Linked DNA regions of Homo sapiens. The protein of the gene in region 7 purifies or fractionates together with the protein of the main gene of each other region. This does not show direct contact. Each region holds a gene or a part of one and is shown on either strand. Other genes may lie near its edges.

Region 1 (3,625 bases), on a different chromosome or scaffold from region 7:
TCAGGCAAGCTTCTGCTTAGTTGTGTATGCGTCAGTATCTTCATCAGAAAATGGGGTAATAATCTCTATCTTGCAGTACTAGAGTAAGGGAATTCCAGCCACAGCAAACCTTTGTTCTATTAAACACCAGGCATAAATTGGGCACCGAAGTCAGACACCAAGGATACAGGTGCGTGCGCGCTTGCGCACGTGTGTGTGTGTGTGTGTGTGTGTGTGTGTGTGTGTGTACATGTGCATGGATGCAGGCATGCAAGCAAGCATACAGCTTCTGTCCTCCCAGAGCTCACAGGCAGTAGGAGGGTGTCAGTTGACAAATTGTTATGTAAATGATTAATTAGTTGCAAGTACAGGGTACTAGGAAATATTTTGTCGGTTGAGTAAGAGACTCGAGGGAGTAAAGCCTGTAAGGAGCTTAGGACCACATCTGGAAGCAGCCAACATGGACGTGGTATGGCGGTGCCTTCTGCTGCTGCTGCTGCTGGTGCTGTTTTTCTCTCTCTTCTCTCCCACTTCCTTCATTCCCCAGGATGTCGAATGTTCATGATAGACCTAGTATTAGAGAACATGCAAGAAAAGGGATGGAGAAAGACACAGGGTTCTCCCAGTGTGGTGGTCGGTCATAACCAGAGCTCCCTCTGTCCTCAGTTGCTGGAATTCCAGATGGCCTGTGACTGCCCTGAGAATGACAATCCCTAAGGAATGGAGTAGGTAGAGTGGAGTAGGTAGAGATGGCTGCCTCTGGCAGGTGCCAGGCCCGCAGCTGGATGGGTCTCAGGGCATGGTAGCCCCGGGGCCCTTCAGTCTCTGTGCCAGGATGTAAGATGGCTGCTTCCTCTTCCAGCTCATTCCAGCCCTGAGTGGCAAGGTCAACACTGCTAAGGGGAGGCTAGCAGATGGCGCCATCTACCTGGCTTATGTTTTGGGGGCTTTTGGTGACCGTGACAACTGACGTGGTGGTGTTTCTTCCACTTGGGGAGCATGGTAAGGGCAGAGCAGCTGCCTAGGTAACTGGGCTCAGACCTGCAGAAAAGGCAAAACCCCAGTGGCTCTCCCTCATTCAGAGCCTCCGAGCCAAGAGGCATCATTTGCAGCCACTGGGCGCCCAGCAGTGTCCTGAGTGCAGCAAGCAGGGAGAATGCGAGAGTGTACTATACCTCCCAGGCCTCGTGCAGACCTCTGATGGCGAGTACTTTGTCATTCCTTCCACAGGCCTTTGTTGAAACCTCACCTTGTGGCAGGCCCCACATTGAGTGTTCAGTGCTTCCTTTGTTCATTTAGCAAATAGTCATGGACCTGGGCCCGTAGTGCCAACGTCCCATGCACCCCCTCTCCTTGCAGCTTAGGTACTTCTTTGCTTCCTCCCAAAGCGCCTTCCCCTTCTCTCCCCTCCACCAGAGTTAACTAGGACTTATCTTTTGGGTCCCAGCTGAAATGTCACTTCTTTTTTTTTTTTTGATGGAGTTTTGCTCTTATTGCCCAGGCTAGAGTGCAATGGTGTGATCTTGGCTCACTGCAACCTCCGCCTCCCGGGTTCAAGCAATTCTCCTGCCTCAGCCTCCCGAGTAGCTGGGATTACAGGCGTGCGCCACCAGCCCAGCTTATTTTTGTATTTTTAGTAGAGACGGAGTTTCACCATGTTGGCCAGGCTGGTCTCGAACTCCTGACCTCAGGTGATCCACCTACCTCAGTCTCCCAAAGTTTTGGGATTACAGGTGTGAGCCACTGCACCTGGCCTGAAATGTCACTTCTAAGGATACCTGCTCTGACTCCCCAGTCCAGGGCAAGTCCCCTGATTGGGCATCCAGAGCCCCAGGCCCCTTCTCCTGCAAGACACTGGTCCCAGTTACGCGACAGGCGCTTATGGGCCCTGTAGGTGGATCTGTCTCCCTCCGGAGCCAGTACGCTCCATGTGGTCAAGGACCTTGTCCGGCTCGCTCACCAAGGACCCCCAGTGCTCAGCAGGGACTGAGTGAGCAGGTCCAGGGAGGTGATACCAAACAAGACAGCCTGGTTTTGCCCTCATGGACCTGGCCATCCATCAAGGATGCTGAATCATCAAAGCCACATCGTACCAAGTGTTCATTGCTGTGGTAGATCGGGCCTGTGGGGGGACTCAGCAGGCACACCCTGGTGGGTTAAGCATGGCTTCCCAGAGGAAGTAACTTTGACACTGGGACCATAGGTATCAGCTACGTGAAAGGAGAGTTCAAAGATCATGTGGGCTGGAGTGGCCAGGAGATACTTCCTGGAGGAAGGACATGGAGTGTATTTGGGTAGGGGAGGGGAGAAGGCAGTATTTAAATTAGAAAGTGCAGTAATTAGTTGAATTTGGATGGTCCTGGTTGAAAGAGAACAGACTGGGCAAAGGTCTGAAGGTGACCTGTGCCGAGGGCCTTTTGCCAGGACAGTGAATGATGAGGCCAGGCTGGCTGGAGTAGGGGGGCAGTGGGGACCAAGTAGGCCAGAAAGCTGGCTGTAATTCCGGTGGGCTTGAAAAGAGTTGCTTTCCAAGAGTGGGGACTCTCTGCCAGCAGTGCTCCCTCTGGTTCCAGTTTCCCAGGCAAGAGAGGCTGCTGGGCTCTTAAAGATCTTGAAGCAAATGAAGGCAAAGGAAGGCCATGCCCGGGGCCCAGGCATCCTGGCTTTTGTGCCTTCCCTCGAGGGTGCCATGCTGCCAGTGGGACAGCTGACACAATGAGCCTTGTTGTGGGAGACCCAGGCCGGGGAGCACAGGCCCGGAGCTGGGAGCCAGGGCAGATGAGGTAGGAGAAGGTAATGATTATAACAACAACATAATAACGGTTGTCTTTATTGAGCAATGACTACATGCCAGACACCGTTCTAAGCCCTTTTGATATTATTCCATGGAATCTTCACACCGTGCTGGGGATGAGGTATTGTGCTGCTTCTATTTTAGAGGAAAAGTGACTGAGGCACAGAGAGGTGGAGACACTTGCCCAAGTTTGTCTCCTCGTGAGCAGCAAGGCTGAAATGTGAGCTATGCCTGCCTGAATCCACAGCCCATCCACACACAGTCCCCAGTAGACAGTGGTGCCACAGTTGAACTCAGAACTGGCTGATTCCAAAGCCCAGTGTGCCCTGTGGCTTCCCGCTGGATTTCCTGAGCAGTCTGGAAGGTTTACAAATGGGCACAGAGGGAGGCTCCCAGAAGCTGGGACAATGCTGGGCCCCAGAACTCCAGAACCCTCTAAGTCAGGGGTGTCCAATCTTTTAGCTTCCCTGGGCCACACTGGAAAAGGAACTGTCTTGGGCGACACGTAAAATACACCAACACTAACAACAGCAGATGAGCTAAAAAAAAAAAAAAGTCCATAAATGTCATAATGTTTTAAGAAAGTTTACAAATTTGTGTTGGGCTGCATTCAAAGCTGTCCTGGGCCACATGCAGCCCATGGACCACAGGTTGGACAAGCTTGCTCTAAGAGATGTGAGGGATTCCACGAGACCAGGTTCCAGTCTAGTTTACACAGCTCCCTCTGTTTGACCTTGAGTTTCCTCCTCTATAAGATGGGGTCAGCCGGGCGCGGTGGCTCACGCCTGTAATCCCAACATTTTGGGAGGCTGAGGCGGGCGGATCACAAGGTCAGGAGTTCGAGACCATCCT
Region 2 (3,625 bases), on a different chromosome or scaffold from region 7:
CCAGCACTTTGGGAGGCCAAGGCAGGGGGATCACTTGAGCTCAGGAGTTCAAAACCAGCCTGGGCAACATAGTGAGACCTCACCTCTGTAAAAAATAAAATAAAATAATGGAAGAAATAAAACTGTATTTTTAACAGACAGCCTGATTTATGTAGAAAAATCTCAAGACTTGGCCAAAAACAAAAACAAAAACAAAAACAAAAAAATCCCTAGAATGAATAAGTGATTAAAGCAAGTTGCAGGATACAAAGTTAATAAGCAAAAATCAATTATTTGACAGGAATGAACAATTGAGCAACTGGAATTTGAAATTAAAAATATAATACCATTGGCCAGGTGTGGTGGCTCACATCTGTAATCCCAGCACTTTGGGAGGCCGAAGCTGGTGGATCATTTGAGGTCAGGTGTTTGAGACCAGCCTGGCCAACTTGGTGACCCGTCTCTACTAAAAATACAAAAATTAGCCAGGCGTGGTGGCGCATGCCCGTAATCCCAGCTACTCGGGAGGCTGAGGTAGGAGAATTGCTTGAACCCAGGAGGCAGAGGTTGCAATGAGCTGAGATTGTACCACTGCACTCCAGCCTGGGCAACACAGCGAGACTCTGTCTCAAAAAAAAAAAAAAAATGTCAATTTTTCCCAACTTGATCTCTAGATTCAATGCAATCCCAGTCAAAATCCCGGAAAGCCATTTTGCAGATATCAACAGATTCTCAAATTTGTATGGAAAGAAAAAACCCAGATAGCTAACACTATACTGAAGAAAGGCAACAAAAATGAGGGACTAACACTACCTGACTTCCAGACTTACTACTAAAATACAATAATCAAGATAGTGTGGTACTGGGGAAAGAAGAGGGAGATCAATGAAACTGAATAGGGCAGGGTGTGGTGGCTCACACCTATAATCCCAACACTTTGGGAGGCTGAGACGGGGGAGATCACTCGAGCTCAGAAGTTCCAGACCAGCCTGGGCTACACGGCGAAACTCTATCTCTACAAAAATACAAAAATTGGCTGGGAGCGGTGGCGCGAGCCTGTAGCACAAGCTACTCGGAAAGCTGAGATGGTAGGATTGCCAGGGCCCAGGAGGCAGAGGCTGCAGTGAGCCAAGATTGTGTCACTGTACTCCAGCCTGTATTAAAAGAAAAAAAGAAAAAGAAAAGAAACTGAATAGAAAGCCCAGAAATGGACCCACACAAATATATTCAACTGATCTTTGACAAAGAAGCAAAGGCAATTCAATGGAGAAAGGACAGTCTTTTCAACAAATGATGCTGGAACAATTAGGTGTTCATATGCAAAAAAAAAAAAAATACATATAGAATATAGACACAAACCTTACACTTTTCACAAAAATTAAAGTAAACTGCATCATAGACCTAAATGTCAATGGTAAAACTATAAACCTTCTAGATGATAACACAGGAGAAAATCTAGGTAGCCTTGGGTTTGGTGATGAGCTTTAGGACACAATGTTAAGAGCATGATCCATGAAAGAAAAATGTAGTAAGTTCGACTTTTTAAAATTAAGAACTTCTGCTCTACAAAAGACATTGTTAAGAGAATGAAAAGACAAGCCACAGACTGTGAGAAAATATCTGTGAGACATCTATCTGATAAAGGCTTGTATCCAGAATGTACAAAGGACTCTTAAAACACAACAATTTAAAAAATGAGCCCAGTTAAAAAATAGGCAAACAATCTGAACAAACATCTCATCAAAGAAGACATACAATTCCCAGTACTTTGGGAGGCCGAGACACGCAGATCATTTGAGCCCAGGAGTTCAAGACCAGCCTGGGCAACACAGCAAAACCCTATCTCTACAAAAAATACAAAAATTAGCCAGGCATGGTGATGTGCACCTGTAGTCCTAGCTACTTGGGAGGCTGAAGCCTGGGAGAATCACCTGAGCCTGGGAAGTGAGCTGTAATCACACCACTGCACTCCAGCCTGGACAACCAATGAACACACAAAAAAAGAAGACATACGAATGGCAAGTAAGAATATGAAAAGATGTCCAACATTATATCATTAGGGAACTGCTAATTAAAACAACAAATGAGATACCACTATATACTTATTAAAATGGCTAAAATCTGGGCTGGGTATGGTGGTTCATGCCTGTAATCCCAGTACTTTGGGAAGCTGAGGTGGGCAGATCATCTGAGGTCAGGAGTTCAAGACCAGCCTGGCCAACATGGTGAGACCCCATCTCTACTAAAAATACAAAAATTAGCCAGGCGTGGTGGCGGGCACCTGTAATCCTAGTTACCTGGGAGGCTAAGGCAGGAGAATCGCTTAAACCTGGGAGGTGGAGGTTGCAGTAAGCCAAGGTCACACCACTGCACTCCGGCCTGGGCAACAGAGCAAGACTGTCTCAAAAAAAAAATCTCAAAAAAAAAAAAAAAAGGAATTGCCAAAAAGCACTGTACTCTAGTAGATAAAGTTGTTTCTTATCGGAGTACAGGTTAATAATTAATTCAATAAACAGAGGATGGTGGGTACAGGTTTCTCACTGTTGGAGTGGGAGTTTACAGATGAGCAAGAGAAGGAAACTAGAATGATCTATGTGGTGATGGACTAAAGTTGGAGACATCAGTAAGAACAAATGTTTAATGTAATATAGGTACAGATGGTTACACATAGAAATATTTGTAGATATGTGTATATGCAGAGGTTAGTATGCATACATGTATTTCTTTGCTCTGTTGGCTGAGAGGGTCTAGAATCAATGATACCTCAGCAGCAAAAAGTACACTTACTGTCCAGGTCTTGGTTTCTAAGATCACTTTCCAATAAAAGGAACCAAGGTTTCTTGGAGTATTGGTTGGTTCTAGGACTAGAACCAGGAAATATACAAGAGAGGAAATATACAAGATGAGTCTGGAGCATCTTATAGTGCCAAAATGTAAAAAGTGCTTAAAATCAAACAAAATTCTTGATATGAATTTGCCAAAAATTAAATAAAACAAAAAATAAAATAATAAAACAAAACAAAATCTTACAATGATTGGGGTATGTCAATGTGACACAAGAGCCAAGTGAATGAGCTCCCCGTGGCCAAAGCTGGAAAAATTTGAGAAAAAATAAAGTAGTATTGCATTATAACACAAAGTATAAAATAAATATCCTTGAGTCCTTATTGATATCAATGATTGAATAAAGTCATAAATGGGAGAAAAGAGATAAATCTCCCATGCAGAAGAATTCTTAAAAAAATTATGTAGATACTCCACCTCCAAGGAGGAAGAACATAAGTAACCCCCAACCTTAAGTGTGGGCTGCACAGAGTGACTTCCTTTCAAAGAGTACAGTATGAAAATAGGAGGAAGAGTAACTTTTCAGTAGAGAAACCAGACAAACACTACTTCAACTAGATGGTCAAGGTCAACATCAACAGTCATAAGTCATGTGATTTGATGTGATGAAAATGGCAGTTTACCTCTGCGATGTTCCTCCAAAAACCCATAACCCCAAGTCCAATTATGAGGAAAACAGCAGACAAATCCTAACTTAGTGACATCCTGCAATATACCTGACCAATACCCTCACCAAACTGTCAAGGACATCAAAAATAAGGTCTAAGAAATTGTCACAGCAAAAAGGAGCCTAAGAACATAT
Region 3 (2,415 bases), on a different chromosome or scaffold from region 7:
ACTTCGAAAAGTAGCTAGTTGCCCATCAGGGAAAACTATTCAAGCTGTGTTCTAGCCCAGACTAATTGACCATCTGTGAGAAGTTGGATAAGTCTGTGTTCTTCTTCATGACTTCCAGGGACAGACGTGAACCTCTTTAAAAAAAAAAATTAGGGAAAATACGCAATTTTTCTCTTAGAGCCCCTTCCAGCAGAGAAACTTATTATTCTTAATGAAACATGTCTACTGTCTGTATAACCTTGTTTCTTTTCTTTCTTTCCTTTTTTTTTTTTTTTTAATTGACATGGAGTCTCACCCTGTTGCCCAGGCTGGAGTGCAGTGGCATGATCTCGGCTCACTGCAATTTCTACCTCCTGGGTTCAAGTGATTCCCCTGCCTCAGCCTCCCGAGTAGCTGGGCCTACAGGTGCCCACCAGCACACCCAGCTAATTTTTGTATTATGATACAGGCTGGTCTTGAACTCCTGACCTCAAGTGATCCGCCTGCCTTGGCCTCTCAAAGTGCTAGGATTACAGGCATGACCCAATGCGCCTGACCCCTGTATAACCTTATTTCATCCTTATTTCATGGACCGAAGGCCATGATCAAATAGGTCATGTGCATAGAGTCATTAAAATGTAATTTTACAAATGCAGTGCACAGCCTTATTTGGGTCCTGGATTTGGGGGAAAACATCTATAAAAGACATTTTGGGGATAACAGGATAAATCTGAATATGAAGCATAACTTAAATGACATTATATAATTAATTTTCTTAGGTGTGAGAATAGTGCTGTGATTATATAGGCACATGTCCTTATTCTTAAGACATACCTGCAGAGAAGTATTCAGGGGTGAAGTGTTATGATATCCAAAACTCATTTTCAACCAGCAAAGTAAGTGTTACATATTAACAATTGATAATGCTATGTAAAGGTACAGATATGAGCCTCTTTCAAGAAAAGTTAGGGAAAATATAATATGCAATATTCCTCTTAGACCAGAAGCTCCAGTGAAATTCAGGGATGATTATTATCCAAAAAAAATTAACCTTAATGTGGGGTAACATTAGTGTAATTTCTTGCCACTAACCATGATTTTTTAAATGGAAGCAGATCTATCTGTTTGTAGCAGATCTATCTATTGTTGGTTATAAGATAACCAACTCTTAAATCAGGTCTGTGCTGTAACATAAGACTAATAATATGTTTCATACAACAGAGGTCTTGTCTGTTGGAATAATTATTTTCCATAAAGGCCATGTGCTCGCTTTTAAACTTTTCACTCATTTTTCTATTTATGCTCTAATCAGGTTTTCCGGTGCCTTCCCAATGATGAAGTACACAATTTAATTCAGCTGAGAGACTTTATAAACAAGCCCGTATTAGCTAAGGAAGATCCCATTCGAGCTGAGGAGGAACTGAAGAAGATCCGTGGATTTTTGGTGCAATTCCCCTTTTATTTCTTGTCTGAAGAAAGCCTACTGCCTTCTGTTGGGACCAAAGAGGCCATAGTGCCCATGGAGGTTTGGACTTAAGAGATATTCATTGGCAGCTCAAAGACTTCCACCCTGGAGACCACACTGCACACAGTGACTTCCTGGGGATGTCATAGCCAAAGCCAGGCCTGACGCATTCTCGTATCCAACCCAAGGACCTTTTGGAATGACTGGGGAGGGCTGCAGTCACATTGATGTAAGGACTGTAAACATCAGCAAGACTTTATAATTCCTTCTGCCTAACTTGTAAAAAGGGGGCTGCATTCTTGTTGGTAGCATGTACTCTGTTGAGTAAAACACATATTCAAATTCCGTATACCAAAATCCATTTCCTTTGTAACAAGAATTTACCAGTAACTGTGATCTAGGTTGCCAAAAGTTGTCTGAATCTCCTTATTCTTCTCTGATCTTCATTTATGCAGCCAATGTCTAGCTGGACCTGCCCTCATCTTGCAGTTCATACAGGCACTGTTTGAGAGATTGTTTATTATTAGATGTTGTAATGCTGCTTCAAGATTCTTCATGGTTACATGGGATGCCCCTGCTCATCTGGTCCTGAAGTAGTAACATTCACCCAAATGAGGATATAGTCATTATTCCTTTTCAGTCACTGTACGAACACGGCAGACTTTAGCCTACACAGTAGACTGTGTTAGGCACTTCTGGTAACATTGACACTGTATCTTGACACCACTAAGCAACAGGAAGGAATAAATTCCAATATTGAGACAGAGATTTATTTCATTTTGCTCCCAAAGGCACTGACAACATGAGTCCTTGTGATTAGGCCCACCTGATCAAATGTAAAAACATGCATGGGATATTTGATTACGTAACAACCAGCTAAAACTGAGAGCACACAGCCTTCGGAAACCCCCAAGGTGTCGAGGAGGATCAGATCCAGATAAGAGAAGATGATTCCTTCTAGTCCTGTAAAA
Region 4 (2,533 bases), on a different chromosome or scaffold from region 7:
CAGGTCCTCCTTCGGCTCATAGGCCAGTGGGTCTGGGGACCAAGAGCAAGGCACAAGCTGGGTTCCGCTCTGGAGCCCGGCCCAGCACGTGCCACTCGGCCGCGTCAGTGCCTCCTTCAGGCCTTCTCATGAGCACAGCCGTCCCGGTCCCAACAGGCCTCAGAAGCAGGCCTCTGCGACCTTCCACCCCACAGCTTCTCTTCCTCAGACTGTGGCCCTCTCCTTTGACAGGGGCTCCCAGAGGTGTCCCTCCACAGGCCAAGGCCTGGGGCTCCTCCCTGAGTCAGTCTGCCCTGGGGCCCTGCCCTCACGTTCCCCACACGTGTTGGGGGTCTCGATGGGGCAGATACCCTGCCTTCCTGCCAGGCACCGTGGCTCTCCCAGCTCCCCACACAGTCCTCGCCCGGAACGTCTCTCTCCCTAGGGATGGCCCCTGACGTAGAAGCAGCTCATGGCTTGGGAGGGGATCCTGAGGTCAGCGAGGGCCAGGCCTGTCCTCCCAGTGGCTGAGGACTGTTCCTGTGGAGCCCCATCCTCAGGAGGTGGCAGCTCAGAGTGCCCAGTCCTGAGGCCCCTCGCCAGGCCCTTACCTGAGCCGATGCGGGCCCGAGACATGGTGGGTGAGTCCAGCTTGTGGGCTGGCACCGTCAGGTAGTTGTTGATCTGACAGAGAGGACAGACGGGGTGAGCACAGGCAGCTGGGCAGAGGGAGCCCCTCAGGACAGAACCCGGCCAGTGCACACCCCACCTTTCGTATATGCAGGGCGCTTGCTCCCCCTCCCTTGTGCCTGTGTGGGCACCCGTACTGGCCCCTCAGGAGCTCCTAAGGGCTCATCCCAGGCTCCTGTCACAGCCTCCCTGAATACACCTACACTGCTCAGCCTTAAATCCACCCATTCCTCTGTCCCCTGCCACTGCCCTAACCCAGGCCATGCCCCACAACCCCACGCCAATCCCTTGCTTAGAACTCATGGCTCTCCATGCCCTTACACTGCTAAAAGCCCCTCGAAAGCCAAACCCTGTTCCTAGAATGGGTACATTTCCTTAGAGGCTGTGGCGGAGCTTGGGCGAGTGGGGTGGGATACAGATTCCCAGAGGAAGGCAGAGGCTACCTTCTGCTCCAGCTGCCGGGCCTTCTGCCTCCGGAGCAGCATCTGGTTCCAGGCTTCCTCGTAGGGGTCTGCCACCAGCGTGTGTCTGTTGTAGGACCGCAGCTGTGGGAGGGACAGCGTCAGGGCAGTGCGGGCCCCGGAAGGCTCTGCTCATGGAGGGGTGGGGGCAGTGCTGGAGGCCGGGCCAGTCCTGGGGTGGGTGCCGAGGGGCACGGGCAGGGCAGGGCTGCCGTAGAGAGGGGCTGAAGGGCTCCTGTACCCTGGGGGTCGGGCTGGGGAGCAGGCCCTCACCCGCTGCCTGGTCTTCTGCAAGTTGTTCCTCAGGATTTTGCGGATCTCCTCCTCCTTGTCCTTGGACAGTGCTGGCAGGATGCGCTCGGAAGGCAGGGACTTGGGGTGGATGTTCCTGGGGCAATAGGGCATCGGTTAGGTCCCCAAGATTCTTGGGATCCTGGTGCCTCCCAGGTTTGGCCAGAAGGAAGTCACCCTAGGGATGACCCAGGTGGGCGCCAAAGCCTCAGGTCCTTGGTGCGAGCCCACAGCTCTCTTGTCCGCCCCAACAGGACAACAGAAGACCCCGCCCCCCAGGTGGCCACCTCCAACCGGGCTTGAGGGGCCGGTGTGTGGGAGCAGAAGCTGCCTGGTTGCCCCAGCACTCACTGCATGGAGACGGTGGAGACGGCAGAGGGGATCTTGCCCATGCCCCCGCTCTCCACCAGCTCGATGGCCTGCTTCATCTCCATCTTGTGGTAGAAGGCAATGAGCTGGGGCTCCTTGGAGCGCTCGCCAGCTATCAGACACTTCTTCACATATTTCTTATTAAACCGGTTGAGCCTGGTGGGAGGAGGAGGGAGACGGATGGCGCCAGCTTCCAGGAGTGGGGAGATGCCCAGGCCCAGGAGACCCTTGCCTGCCCCTCCCTGCCTGCCCACCAGGCCTGCCACCTACTTGTCCTTCCAGTGGTGGTGACCGTAGTGGCCACAGATGTCTTCGATGCCTGTCAGAAGGTGGTCCAGGAACTGAAAGGGGCCCAGGGCCAAGTCAAGCCTCGCTGTGGGGCGCCTTCCCTACCAAGACCTCTGACTAGCCCCACTCCCTCCCGTAGCTGCAGCCCTGCTGGGTCCAGCCCTGTGGTTCCATGAGCAGCCAGGAGGTGGCGCCCACACTCCACTCATCGAACCCAGCGGCCCTGACTCTGGGTATCTCGAAGCCTTGCCTGTGTCCGGCTGAGCCCCCTTCTCTAATCCCACCTGGGACCTATGCCTGGGATAGGTTTCAAATGGAGGCAGAGATGGCATGATGCCCCCTCCTCAGGCTCCCAGCTGCTCACACCACACCTTCCTATGGCTAGACCCTGGCGGCCTCCTGGGGCAGAGGGAGCCCCTGGGCACTGGCACAGGGAGAAGGGGCTGATGGGGGGC
Region 5 (3,625 bases), on a different chromosome or scaffold from region 7:
GATGAATTTCCTAGCCCTTTAACTTTTTCCTTCCTCATATATGCCAGGGGTCCATAGACCTGTGCCAATCAAACATGCAGATTCCAATCAGCCTGCAAAGGAGTCCGAAAAAAGAAAAAGAAAAAGAAAAACTGCATATTCTACCCCCTCAGCCTTTTAAGACAGGTTTAGAACTTAGCATGAAATTCTGCCCTAACCTTTAAACTCATTAAGTTGCCTCAATTAGCCTGAGTTTCATATGATCTTCAGAAGGTAACGAAAGGAAGAAGTATCTTCAGAGGCAAATTGTCCTTAAACTGCCTGACTGTTTTTCAGTACCACACTTCTGCTCTCAACTTTTCACAAGTCTGGCACTCCAGTTCACAAAGGGCTTTGTAAACCAAAGCCAATGAAAATAGCTTTTGTATGTGGTGTCCTATCCTCCAGCCCCATGTCTCAAAGCTACCAGACATGCAAATGGTAGAGTGGCCCTTCTGATGCCTGAGTCATGCTGTGGCTGTGGCTCCTTTCCCCACCCTCACTCTCCTCTCACACAGACACGGACTCTGATAGGGATCTGGGAAGAAGGTATGCCTACCTGTAGCCCAGTCCTTGGATCAGTTCACTTCCCAACCGTTCCTGGATCATCTGGATGGTTCCTTGTAAGAGACTTTTAGCGGCTGAATCCCCGACAGCTATGGCAACAATCCGACCTGGATCCTGGAATCTCAGAAACTCCTGAAGCCGCCTGCTCTCATTGCGGTATTCATGGGTATCAAATCTCTCACTTTCCAAAATTTTGGCCGTGTCTTGGTCAATGACCCTCACATTGAGGCCCCGGGAAAAGTCCTTTTCAAAGGTATAGGACCCAAAGGGCAAGCCTGAGGAATTCAGGGTCCTTGCCAACAACGTCCACGATGCCTTCCGTGCCCCATGTAACTCCAGTGTCCCGCCAGCTTCCACACCAATAAACTTTTTGCCAAATGTTGGCATACTTTCACCTTCATCTGACTTGCCATACAAGGTAATTGTCGCTTTGGATTTATAGCGGCATTTTTCTGCTCCAATATGAAGCGCCCCACCATCCTGGATCAGGATGTAATGAGTCCTCAAAGTAATATTTCTGGATCCATCTTTATTGTCCCCAAATACAAGCAGTCCTGCAGGGAACACCACCCTGTAAGCCAACTTCTAAATCATCTTTCTGAGATACAAGGAAATAGATTTCACCTTAAGTTAAATACACTTCCGCAATTAGGTCGGAAAAAAGAATTCGCTAAGAATCTGCTTAGAAAACTAAAGGGAAAAATGAAGAGTTCATATCTTAATATACTCTCAATGCCCATGACTGTGAATTTCAACCTACTCACTTTAGAGGTTAAATCATTTCTCTTAAAAATATCTAAGAGTCTACAAATCTGAATCTTATTTTTGTATATGTTTACTCATGTTAACTCTCAGAATTGTGACAAAATCACTCTCAGAATTGTGACAAAAATTTAGCTCTGAGAGATCACCTCTCTGGAACTGTTTCCTTGTCTATAAATCAGGGGTCTTGATTTGAGTGATACCTAAGGTCTAAGCTCTTAAATTCTATGTTTTTTATCTCTGGATAAATTCTCTGGTTTTATCTCATGATCTTTCCAAATCTCCATGGTTAGAGTGACACCACAAACTAAAGCCTATTCTGCCTAAAAATAGTCTTCTACATAAGGAACATCAAATATCCCCCACATTAAAGAGCAACCTTGCAGTTCCCATAGGCAGGAACCATTACCTACCTCCATCCTGAATGACTATAGAATGCACGGTGGCGTCTGAGGTCAGACGGAGCATATCTCCCTCCTTGATAACAACTTGCTTTGCAGAATCTTGTCCTGGATCCCAATTCCTGAGACGAGGATTTTGATCTGGGCAATTTTCTATAAACACATTGATATTCCATCCAACCCATTAAAATGCAGGAATAATATAGCCGAATCTAAGCACTACCATTATTTACTGCAGATCTGCAAAAAATGTGCTAACATATGTTGATTTCCTGCCATTAGAATGGAAATCCCACGCCTTCCCACCAGCAGAGAACCATCTTACCCTTTAATTTGTCATCACATTTCCATTTTAAAGTTTTACCACAAAACTAAATTGCTAGCATCTAGTTCAGGACAAACTTCACCAAAAAAAAAAAAAAAAAAAAAAAGTTTCCCTGAATCATCTACTCTGGAAATAAACCAATAGTAAGAGGCAAAATTATACATTCTCTTGGGATTCACACTAGAAAGCTGTTTTAGAAAAGAAATGTGTTCACAACATCCTGGTAAATCAAAAATGAAAATTGCTAAATAATACATTGATCAGGTCTTCACAAGTTCCTTCTTGCACACAGTGAATGATGAAGTAAGTACTGATAGCACCTCTCTCCAAGACTGAGAAACATCACTATCTTCAGCCATGTGCACTCTCCCAACAAAATGAAAGAGGCAAGTGGCTAAAGACATAACTTCTCATTTTCAGAGATGAGGAAATTACAGGTTAGAGAAACCAAAGATTACTTAGCAAGCTGAGTGATACGCAAGTTTCCCCTTTTAGAAAATGAGATTATTGACTTGTAGTGTTCCTTTACTGGAATTAGAACTTGCCTCTTGAATAGGTATTATAATAACAAAAATATAACAGTATTTAATTAAAATAGCCATAGCTATTTAATGTATGAAAACTTTAAGGTCCGCCATAATTTTGAAGAGGGGAGAAAAAAAATCACGCCTTCAATTTTGATCAACCTATGGCCAAGTATTTGTGGAGCATCAATTTATCCACTCTGTACCAGATATTTTAAAATTTATAAAGCATAGAATCAGCTCACATTTCCTCAGAGTTTATATGCAAGCTTTGGAGGGAAAAAACACCAAGTATGAAATAATGAAACACTGAACAATATGGTAGTCAGTCGAGGTTCAAAAGACCTCAGGCAAAGGAGGCATGGGGCTGGAGTAACTGAGGCAGCTTCATGAACAGGTGACTTGAGAGCTGGACACCAAAGGATGGGCAGTATTTAAATAAGAGGATCATGAGAACACTAGTAATGCAATTATCCCTTGAGATCCAAGTAGTCCATTTGGTTGTTCAGAATTCCAAGGTGGCTTTATTTAAACTCAGCTAAGGTAAGAATAAGCAAGATATGCTTGAAAAACCATAGGAAGAAATTCCTTTCATTAAGGTGGCAGGTACATGTTTAGGAATAACAAGAGAAAAAGTAGAGAGGTAGGGTGCTACACAAACATATTGTTCTATACAGAAAAAAAAATGATTCCTCATTTTGAACTTGCATAACACTAATGCAAACATCTTCCTGTTTCTGAGCTCTCACAATGCCCTAGGTTTATGCTTTCTCTTATTAACCACAGCTACAATTAGCCTCACCAGTTATATCCTTGGCAATTATTTCATGGAATTAGTTTTTCTCACAGCAGTATCATAACTGTTGATATTTAATGCTTCTGATAAGTCAATGAGTATCACTATTATACTAAAAACAATCTTTAAGCTTTTCTTCCCATCAAAGAAACAAAAAAACTCTTAAATTTGTTTTGCCTTAATAATGAGGATTCCTTAACTTTTCTACCTCCCTCTTCCCATACAACATCTA
Region 6 (3,625 bases), on a different chromosome or scaffold from region 7:
CTTTGGATCTGGTAATTCCGGAGCCCTCATAGAGATGAGAAATAAGTCTCAGCCATCCCCAAAATGGTCCTGAGGACTCCCTTCTCCTCATCTACCTAAAGACTTCACCCCACACAGATGGGGCAGGTGGAATAGGAATGAGAGAGAAGATTATAAAAAGGAGGTGGTGAGGAGAGAGAAATGAGGTGGACAGTGAGGAAAGTAGTGAGAGAATAAGGGAAAATGAAGGTGGGAAAGAAGAGGAGCTGGGGAAGGAGGAAGGATGCTGGCAGCAGGGCAGGCCTACCTTGGGCGTCATGTCATGCGTGATGCAGAATTCAAGGTGCTGCAGGATGCTCTCCATGGTGTGGTAGGGCTGCTGCTTGGTGGTCCGAAGGTACTTCTGCATGGCACGGGCCATGGATGCAAAGATGGCTTGGGCTGCCTCCCGGGGGTCCATCACCTCCCTGGGGTTTTTCTGCTCCTCTTCCTGCAGCCGCTTAATGTGAGTGAAGGCCTCCTCCACCGCCACTACAAGCCTAGGGGACAGGAGGGGACTGGGCCAGATGCCCACCTCTCTTTCCCCCACCCCACCCCTCTCCCCTAGCTCCAACACTCCAGCAGCCTGAATGAGGTCAGGCCTTTGTGCTCACCCAAAGTAATACAAAGCCAGAGGCAATAGTGCCTTTCTGCCACTGGGAACAGTAAACAGCCACAGAGTTCAGTGGGCCCAGCCCAGGGACTCAGAGGGCAAACCTAGTGTCAAACCCAGAGAGACAACTAGGAACTATGCTATAGGAAAGACAAAGCATTCCACCAAACTTTAAGGAAAACCTTCTTAAATAAGACCCCCAAATCATACTTCATTGGCTCAACAATTAATAGATATGATTACATCAAAATGACAGATTTCTGTTCAACCATGACAGCATGGGCAACATTAACTGACATCTGATGGAGCTGGGGAAAATATACACATCTAAAACCAACAAGGGATTCAGATCTAGAACATGCAAAGAATTTGCTACAATTTCTATCAAGAAGAAAAAGACAGGAAACCTAGAGAAAAAAGGGCAAAGGAGGTGAACAGAAAATTCACAAGAGGACTGAAAGGCTAAAAGATATACGAAGTAGTTACTGGCTAGCAATTAGAGAGATGCAAATGAAAATGTTAGTAAAATATTACTTTTCCATCAAAATGGAAAAAAGAAAGAAGGTAACTATAAACCAAATATTGGATAGGATGTTGGGAGTATTCCATGAACTACTATGCAGCAAAAAGATGCAACAAACTAGATGTACAGACAACTTGGATGAATCTCAAAAACACAGTGTTAAGGAGGAAGCAGGAAAAAAAAATCCATTTACATTAAAAGCATATAGATGGCCGGGTGTGGTGGCTCATGCCTATAATCCCAGCACTTTGGGAGGGTGAGACAGGTGGATCACCTGAGGTCAGGAGTTCAAGACCAGCCTGGCCAACATGGCAAAACCCCATCTTTACTAAAAATACAAAAATTAGCTGGGCATGCTGGTGTGCATCTGTAATCCCAGCTACTGGGGAGGCTGAGGCAGGAAAATTACTTGAACCCAGGAGGCGGAGGTTGCAGTGAGCTGAGATCATGCCACTGCACTCCAGCCTGGGGGACAGAGCAAGACTCCATCTCAATAAAAAAAAAAAAAAAAGCATACATACAGACACACACACCAACACCAACAAAGATCACTACACTAACACTAACTTTGCACAAGGATACATATAGCTTTTAAGGAAGTCAAACACACTCAACAGGATGCCTAAAATGTGGCGCTGGAGTGAAAGTGGGAACTGGAGGAAAAGAAGAAACAGAATAAAGAACCATGAAAAACTCTATAATGACAATATGTTAGAAGCTGAAAAGAGCAATTAATGCAATTATCTGCACTTCAAGTCCAAAAACCAAAATAAAAGCCCCCTGGCCTAAGAGCAGGACCAGCCTGAAGTGACAGGACAAAGAAAGAAAGTGAGGCCTTCTATGCAGAACCCAGGAACCTGAGTCATTTCAGATGGGACTCTGGGTATATAGGTGTGGATCTGTGTATGTCTATCATTTCTTCCTTTATTCTCTTGCTTCCCCTACATTTCTCAGTAAATTCCCTTTGAAAAGATCCTTTTATCTCAGGTAAACAAAGGAAAAAGTTTGCTCCTGGTTAAAAGCAAGGTAATGGGGAAAGGAAAGAGTCCTCTATGTGCCAAAAATGGTGGTGGCAGTACAGGAGATTGGATGACCCTGGTCAGGGCAGAAGATAAAGGGGTAGGGACATCACTGGTTTCCTTCCCAAGTCTCAGGCCATTTCCAAGACAATTAGAGACAGGTTGGAATGCCACAGAAATGGAGTTGGTGATCTTTGTTCTACTACAGGGGATGCCAGCCTCAAATAGGAACAAGGTAAGGGCTACCTCTTGCCCTTGAAGCCTGGAGTTCATGTGGGAGATGGGGCGGAGGCCAGGTGCGTGGTCAAGTCCTGAGGCACTCTGCTCCTCCCTCAGGGAACTCCCGACAGACCAAGATGGAACCCGGCAGAGTAGGCACCAAGTAAGATTCTTCAGGGTTGACTAAATTCACTTAATAATATGAATAGGGAAAGGGAGAAGCTAGGATGGCATTTAAGAATTTACCAAAATATAGGCAATAAAACGTCATTTTTTGAAGGCAACAAAAGCACCATCTGGTGAGTCCTCTCAAGATCTACTGGCAGGCAGGCTAGTCTAGCCTGAGTCCATGCTGTTGCAGGTAAAGCTCACATCCCTTTATTGGGTCCCTACCCCACTGTGGCAGGCAGAATTCAAAGATACCCTCCACTTCTACCAGACTCCCATCCCCTCATTAGACAACAATCTTGGTACATTTTGCAGATGTAATTAATGTGCCAAGTCAGTGGCCTTAAAAGAAGACTGTCCTTTAGGGCCTGATCTCATCACATGAGCTCTTTAAAATCAGCATTATCTCCAGCTGGTGGCAGAGGTCAGAGACCTGTTTCTGCTGGAAAAAAAAGTGCACTACCATCATGTAAACTGCCTATGGGGCTATGTGACAAGGCACTGAATTCTCCCCATAATAATGAGCTTGAAAGAGAAAGCATAGGCTCAGATGAGAGTCCTCTTGATTTCAGCCTGTGAGGCCTGAGCACAGCCTCCAGCCAGCCTGCACCTGACCCATGGAACTGGGAGATAATAAATGTGTGCTGTTTCACAGCTGCTAAGTTTATGGTAATCTGTTAGGGCAGCAACGGAAAACAAGCACACACCCCCAACTCATGTCATCATTGCCCTATATTTCCAGCAGTTACAGAAGTTCCTTGGTCTTCCTCTCCCCATTCACCCAACAAGCACCTCCTCTCCTCTTCTCCCCCAGGGACCCACCTGGCCCTCCTCTTGCGCACCCTTCGCTCATGCTCAGCCTCCTCATAGTAGTACTCATTGTGACTGTTGTCCCGCCTCCGAGCTGCCGCTGCAATCACAGCCCGAGACTGGCCAGTGGAGTTGTTGGTGCTGTTTTCTGCACAGGAACAGGATAGAGGAGATGGTCACATCAGAGTGTGGCCTCTCTTCCCACTCCAGGAGCTCTGGAGACAGCAGCCTGACATGTCCAGAAGAAGCTGTTCC
Region 7 (3,625 bases):
ATGTTTAATCTCACCCTAATGTAACTTCTGATTAGCAAGCTTCCATTCTCTCTGCCAAATATAACTCATGTTAACGTAGAAAAGTGTTATCATTAGTTACCAGAGCAAATCCAGTGTACTGGATTGTGAATGCATAGTCTTTCTAATTAGGAAAATGAGAGTGTGTATTGTCTTCTTAATTTACATTTATAAAATCCTCATAAAATACAGTTAAGTCAGGGTCTTTTAAAAGAGAAGAATTCAACTGAAACCTGTCATTCTCTAGCCGGGCATGGTGGCTCATGCCTGTAATTCCAGCACTTGGGGAGGCTGAGGCAGGTGGATCACTTAAGGCCAGTCTGGCCAACATGGTGAAACTCCATCTCTACCAAAAATACAAAAATTAGCCGGTGTGGTAGTGGGCACCTGTAGTCCCAGCTACTCAGAAGACTGAGGCACGAGAATCACTTGAGCCCGGGAGGCGGAGGTTGCAGTGAGCTGAGATCGCGCCACTATATGGAGCCTGGCAATAGAGCAAGACTCCATCTCAAAAAAAAAAAAAAAAAAGAAACAAAGAAAGAAAAAGAAACCTGTCATTCTCAATTCATCTGAATCCTACCTACAGAACATTAAAGAGACCCGTATGTCTCGAACTCCTGGCCTCAAGCAATCCGCCTGCCTTGGCCTCCCAAAGTGCTGGGATTACAGGTGTGAGCCACGGCGCCTGGCCAAGGAGACCCATATGTTATTTTACTTAGGTGTTACACAATCAGACCAACGATGGTGCTGAGAGCCCTTGATAAATCATAGACCTGAGATTTGCTGACAGTGACCCAGCCGCAGTACTTATTGTTTATGTTAAATCTGAAAGACAAACAATGATACTTTCAGTGATAAATTTCAAATAATTATAAAAATATAACTGTGCAAATAACTCATTATCCATGTTTTAAGATTGATGACTCTCAAAACTCTGATTTTAGCCTGAAAGTTGCGAAATAGTTTCAAATGTCCAAATGTCTACATAAGCCAGCTCAATAGGAAGCTATTATATATAACTTTTTCACATTGCCTCAAAGTTACAGAATATATTTAAATCCCTCACTTTGTGCTAGAAACATTGACAAGGGACTTTTTCTTTAAAATTATTACCTTGGGAGGTTGTGTTCATTAGAACATTCTCATTTGGTGATCATTTTCTTGTGAGTTTCGTAATTTAAAGTCTTATATGTTAACAAAAATTGCATACCTCTAACTAGATACTGGAACTCAATAATCACTGTATAGGTGAGCTTTTTTCCTCAGTCATGTATATAACATGCAACATGCATAACGTTGCTGGCTGTATACATTTTCTATTGTGTTGTATATTAATATTTTTAAAAGAAAAATAATTTTGAAAGGAACATGAAGTATAGCACCAATCTTGATCTAATAATCTTTGGTAGAAAAAAAAGAGGCACCAACTATACAGTCTGTTCATAGTCCAGGGTCAAAATGCAGCACTATTTTTTTTTTTTTTTTTTTTGAGACAGAGTTTTGCTCTTGTTGCCCAGGCTGGAGTGCTATGGTGCAATCTTGGCTCACTGCAACCTCCACCTCCTGGGTTCAAGCAATTCTCCTGCCTCAGCCTCCCGAGTAGCTGGGATTACAGCATGGAGCCACCACGCCCGGCTAATTTTGTATTTTTGGTAGAGATGGGGTTTCTCCATGTTGGTCAGGCTGGTCTCCAACATCTGACCTCAGGTGATTCGCCTGTCTCGGCCTCCCAAAGTGCTGGGATTACAGGCATGAGTCACCGTGCCCGGCCCAGCACTATTAATAACAAACCCTCCATTCCTGAAATAACATTTCAATATAGACTGAATTATGAAAGATACTTTGACTCATTAGGGAAGATCACAGTAGAAAGGTTTTGTGTTTACACATTTAAAATATTTAACAAACTGACTCTTCTAATGACGGATACTGAAAAATATCTAGTAAAGAATAAAAGTCATACATCACAGGCTCCAAAATAGTATTACCAATCTAATTTGAGTTCTAAGTGTTATTTTATATTGGTAGTTCCTATCGCATACATGTTTAGGGACATTGAACTCCAAAATACTCTTTTTATAGCACTCATATTGAAAGGCAAAGCAACTTCTTTGGGTAGACTGGGTTAACTCCTACACTATTGCCACACTCAAGAACAGCATTTTAAAAAACTCCAGTGAGTCAAAAATTCATTGTCCCAGTCCTTGTTCTACTAGGAAGGAGTGTCTCTTACAGGAGTTTAATGTGTAAGTTGTCAGGTTTGGGCACAGCTGTACAATCTGTCATCACTGATCATCTACCCTCTTGCCAATGAAAACAAAACTTTTTCATAATCAAGCTTCCAGTGTAACTTGAAAAGCCACTGGCGAAGCATTCTAAGTGTTCATTAGAATCTGAGTGTGTCTAATTTAGAATCTAAGTGTATCTAGATTCTGAATTTCTTCAGGTTTTTCTTTGTCAGATCCACAGGCCATATTAGTTGTTATTCCTTTTTTGTTACTTTTACATCCGTTTATCAGAACAAAGCACTTAAGAAATTTTACTGATATTTTGACCCCACTAACAATTTGCACCCCCCTTGCTTTTTAATCCCAGAATCACCATTAGCTCCCTTCTGATGAAGCAGGAGTTGACTCAGCTGGGCTTTCAGCTGGACACGGAAAGCGGAGGTAGATGAATTGTCATGATCAAGTGGGTGTCATCAAGTACTTAGAAAGGTTTCATTTTGTTCCTACTGTCTTTCCAACTTACTAATAAAAATATTGAAATCTATTTCAAAAATGAGGTAGCCTCATGTTATTTTATATCTGTCAGGAATATAGTACCATGGGGAATTTTATTTCCCCAGAAAGCAAGATTACACCCCTTTAGTATGGAACACTGAACTTTAAAAGAGGTGTCCTTGAACGTGTGGAAGTGAAGACAAAGTTTACGATTTAAAATTTGATAATTTTAAAAAAGGCAAGCTAAGTAAACTACGTCCTGAGTTTCAAGATTTTTCTGAGTGATTCAAAGATGTCATGAATTTTCCAGGAGTCTTTACTGTCTCAGGAGGAGTCATCTGATAAAATGCACATTGATGGTGGGTCCATAATTGTGGTTCCGACACTTATGCAAGCTTCACACTTAACTGCGAGCATTCGGCTTTGTTCTTGAGAATCGTGACCTATTGTTCTATAGTATATTTATAACACAAAGCATTAATCTCTGCCAACTAATAATAAACAGGTCGTGGCTATGAAATTATAGTGAGCCCAGGGCCTGCTTGTCTACCTTGTTATTATTTGCTCCAGAACCATTCTTAAATTCAGCTCTAGACAGTCTTTTTAGACCAAGCTATCAACAAAAGTCAGCATGTATAGTAGAGCAGAACAAATTTTTTTTTCCTTTTTGTAGACAAGGTCTCATTTTGTCACCCAGGCTGGAGTGCAGTGGTGCAACCACAGCTCACTGCAGACTTGACCTGCTATGCTCAAGCAATCCTCTTGCCTCAGCCTCCTGAGTAGCTGGGACTACAGGCATGTGCCACCAAGCTGGCTAAATTTTTTTTGTAGAGACGAAATCTCACTATGTTGCCCAGGCTGAGTCTTGAACCCTGGGCTCTGGT

What was found.
Region 1: the proteins of SLC16A10 (region 7) and ZER1 purify together in Homo sapiens (affinity purification with mass spectrometry; one large-scale study listed by BioGRID and IntAct). This does not show direct contact.
Region 2: the proteins of SLC16A10 (region 7) and NCR3LG1 purify together in Homo sapiens (affinity purification with mass spectrometry; one large-scale study listed by BioGRID and IntAct). This does not show direct contact.
Region 3: the proteins of SLC16A10 (region 7) and PLD1 purify together in Homo sapiens (affinity purification with mass spectrometry; one large-scale study listed by BioGRID and IntAct). This does not show direct contact.
Region 4: the proteins of SLC16A10 (region 7) and SLC9A1 purify together in Homo sapiens (affinity purification with mass spectrometry; one large-scale study listed by BioGRID and IntAct). This does not show direct contact.
Region 5: the proteins of SLC16A10 (region 7) and CEMIP2 purify together in Homo sapiens (affinity purification with mass spectrometry; one large-scale study listed by BioGRID and IntAct). This does not show direct contact.
Region 6: the proteins of SLC16A10 (region 7) and VANGL2 purify together in Homo sapiens (affinity purification with mass spectrometry; one large-scale study listed by BioGRID and IntAct). This does not show direct contact.

Annotation. Positions count from the first base shown.
Region 1 is NC_000009.12:128,761,815-128,765,439, reverse strand, and holds part of ZER1 (protein zer-1 homolog), read left to right. Parts: intron 1-3,625. UniProt on the Homo sapiens protein: Serves as substrate adapter subunit in the E3 ubiquitin ligase complex ZYG11B-CUL2-Elongin BC. Acts to target substrates bearing N-terminal degrons for proteasomal degradation with the first four residues of substrates being the key recognition elements.
Region 2 is NC_000011.10:17,358,290-17,361,914, reverse strand, and holds part of NCR3LG1 (natural cytotoxicity triggering receptor 3 ligand 1 precursor), read right to left. Parts: intron 1-3,625. UniProt on the Homo sapiens protein: Triggers NCR3-dependent natural killer cell activation.
Region 3 is NC_000003.12:171,602,179-171,604,593, reverse strand, and holds part of PLD1 (phospholipase D1), read left to right. Parts: intron 1-1,291; coding exon 1,292-1,516; 3' UTR 1,517-2,415. UniProt on the Homo sapiens protein: Function as phospholipase selective for phosphatidylcholine. Implicated as a critical step in numerous cellular pathways, including signal transduction, membrane trafficking, and the regulation of mitosis.
Region 4 is NC_000001.11:27,100,613-27,103,145, forward strand, and holds part of SLC9A1 (sodium/hydrogen exchanger 1), read right to left. Parts: intron 2,132-2,533; coding exon 2,061-2,131; intron 1,947-2,060; coding exon 1,773-1,946; intron 1,519-1,772; coding exon 1,404-1,518; intron 1,215-1,403; coding exon 1,113-1,214; intron 664-1,112; coding exon 591-663; intron 33-590; coding exon 1-32. UniProt on the Homo sapiens protein: Electroneutral Na(+) /H(+) antiporter that extrudes Na(+) in exchange for external protons driven by the inward sodium ion chemical gradient, protecting cells from acidification that occurs from metabolism.
Region 5 is NC_000009.12:71,744,441-71,748,065, forward strand, and holds part of CEMIP2 (cell surface hyaluronidase CEMIP2), read right to left. Parts: intron 2,156-3,625; exon of another isoform or gene 1,902-2,155; coding exon 1,761-1,901; intron 1,184-1,760; exon of another isoform or gene 1,140-1,183; coding exon 578-1,139; intron 1-577. UniProt on the Homo sapiens protein: Cell surface hyaluronidase that mediates the initial cleavage of extracellular high-molecular-weight hyaluronan into intermediate-size hyaluronan of approximately 10-5 kDa fragments.
Region 6 is NC_000001.11:160,420,945-160,424,569, reverse strand, and holds part of VANGL2 (vang-like protein 2), read right to left. Parts: intron 3,519-3,625; coding exon 3,383-3,518; intron 519-3,382; coding exon 287-518; intron 1-286. UniProt on the Homo sapiens protein: Involved in the control of early morphogenesis and patterning of both axial midline structures and the development of neural plate. Plays a role in the regulation of planar cell polarity, particularly in the orientation of stereociliary bundles in the cochlea.
Region 7 is NC_000006.12:111,226,912-111,230,536, reverse strand, and holds part of SLC16A10 (monocarboxylate transporter 10), read right to left. Parts: 3' UTR 1-3,625. UniProt on the Homo sapiens protein: Sodium- and proton-independent thyroid hormones and aromatic acids transporter.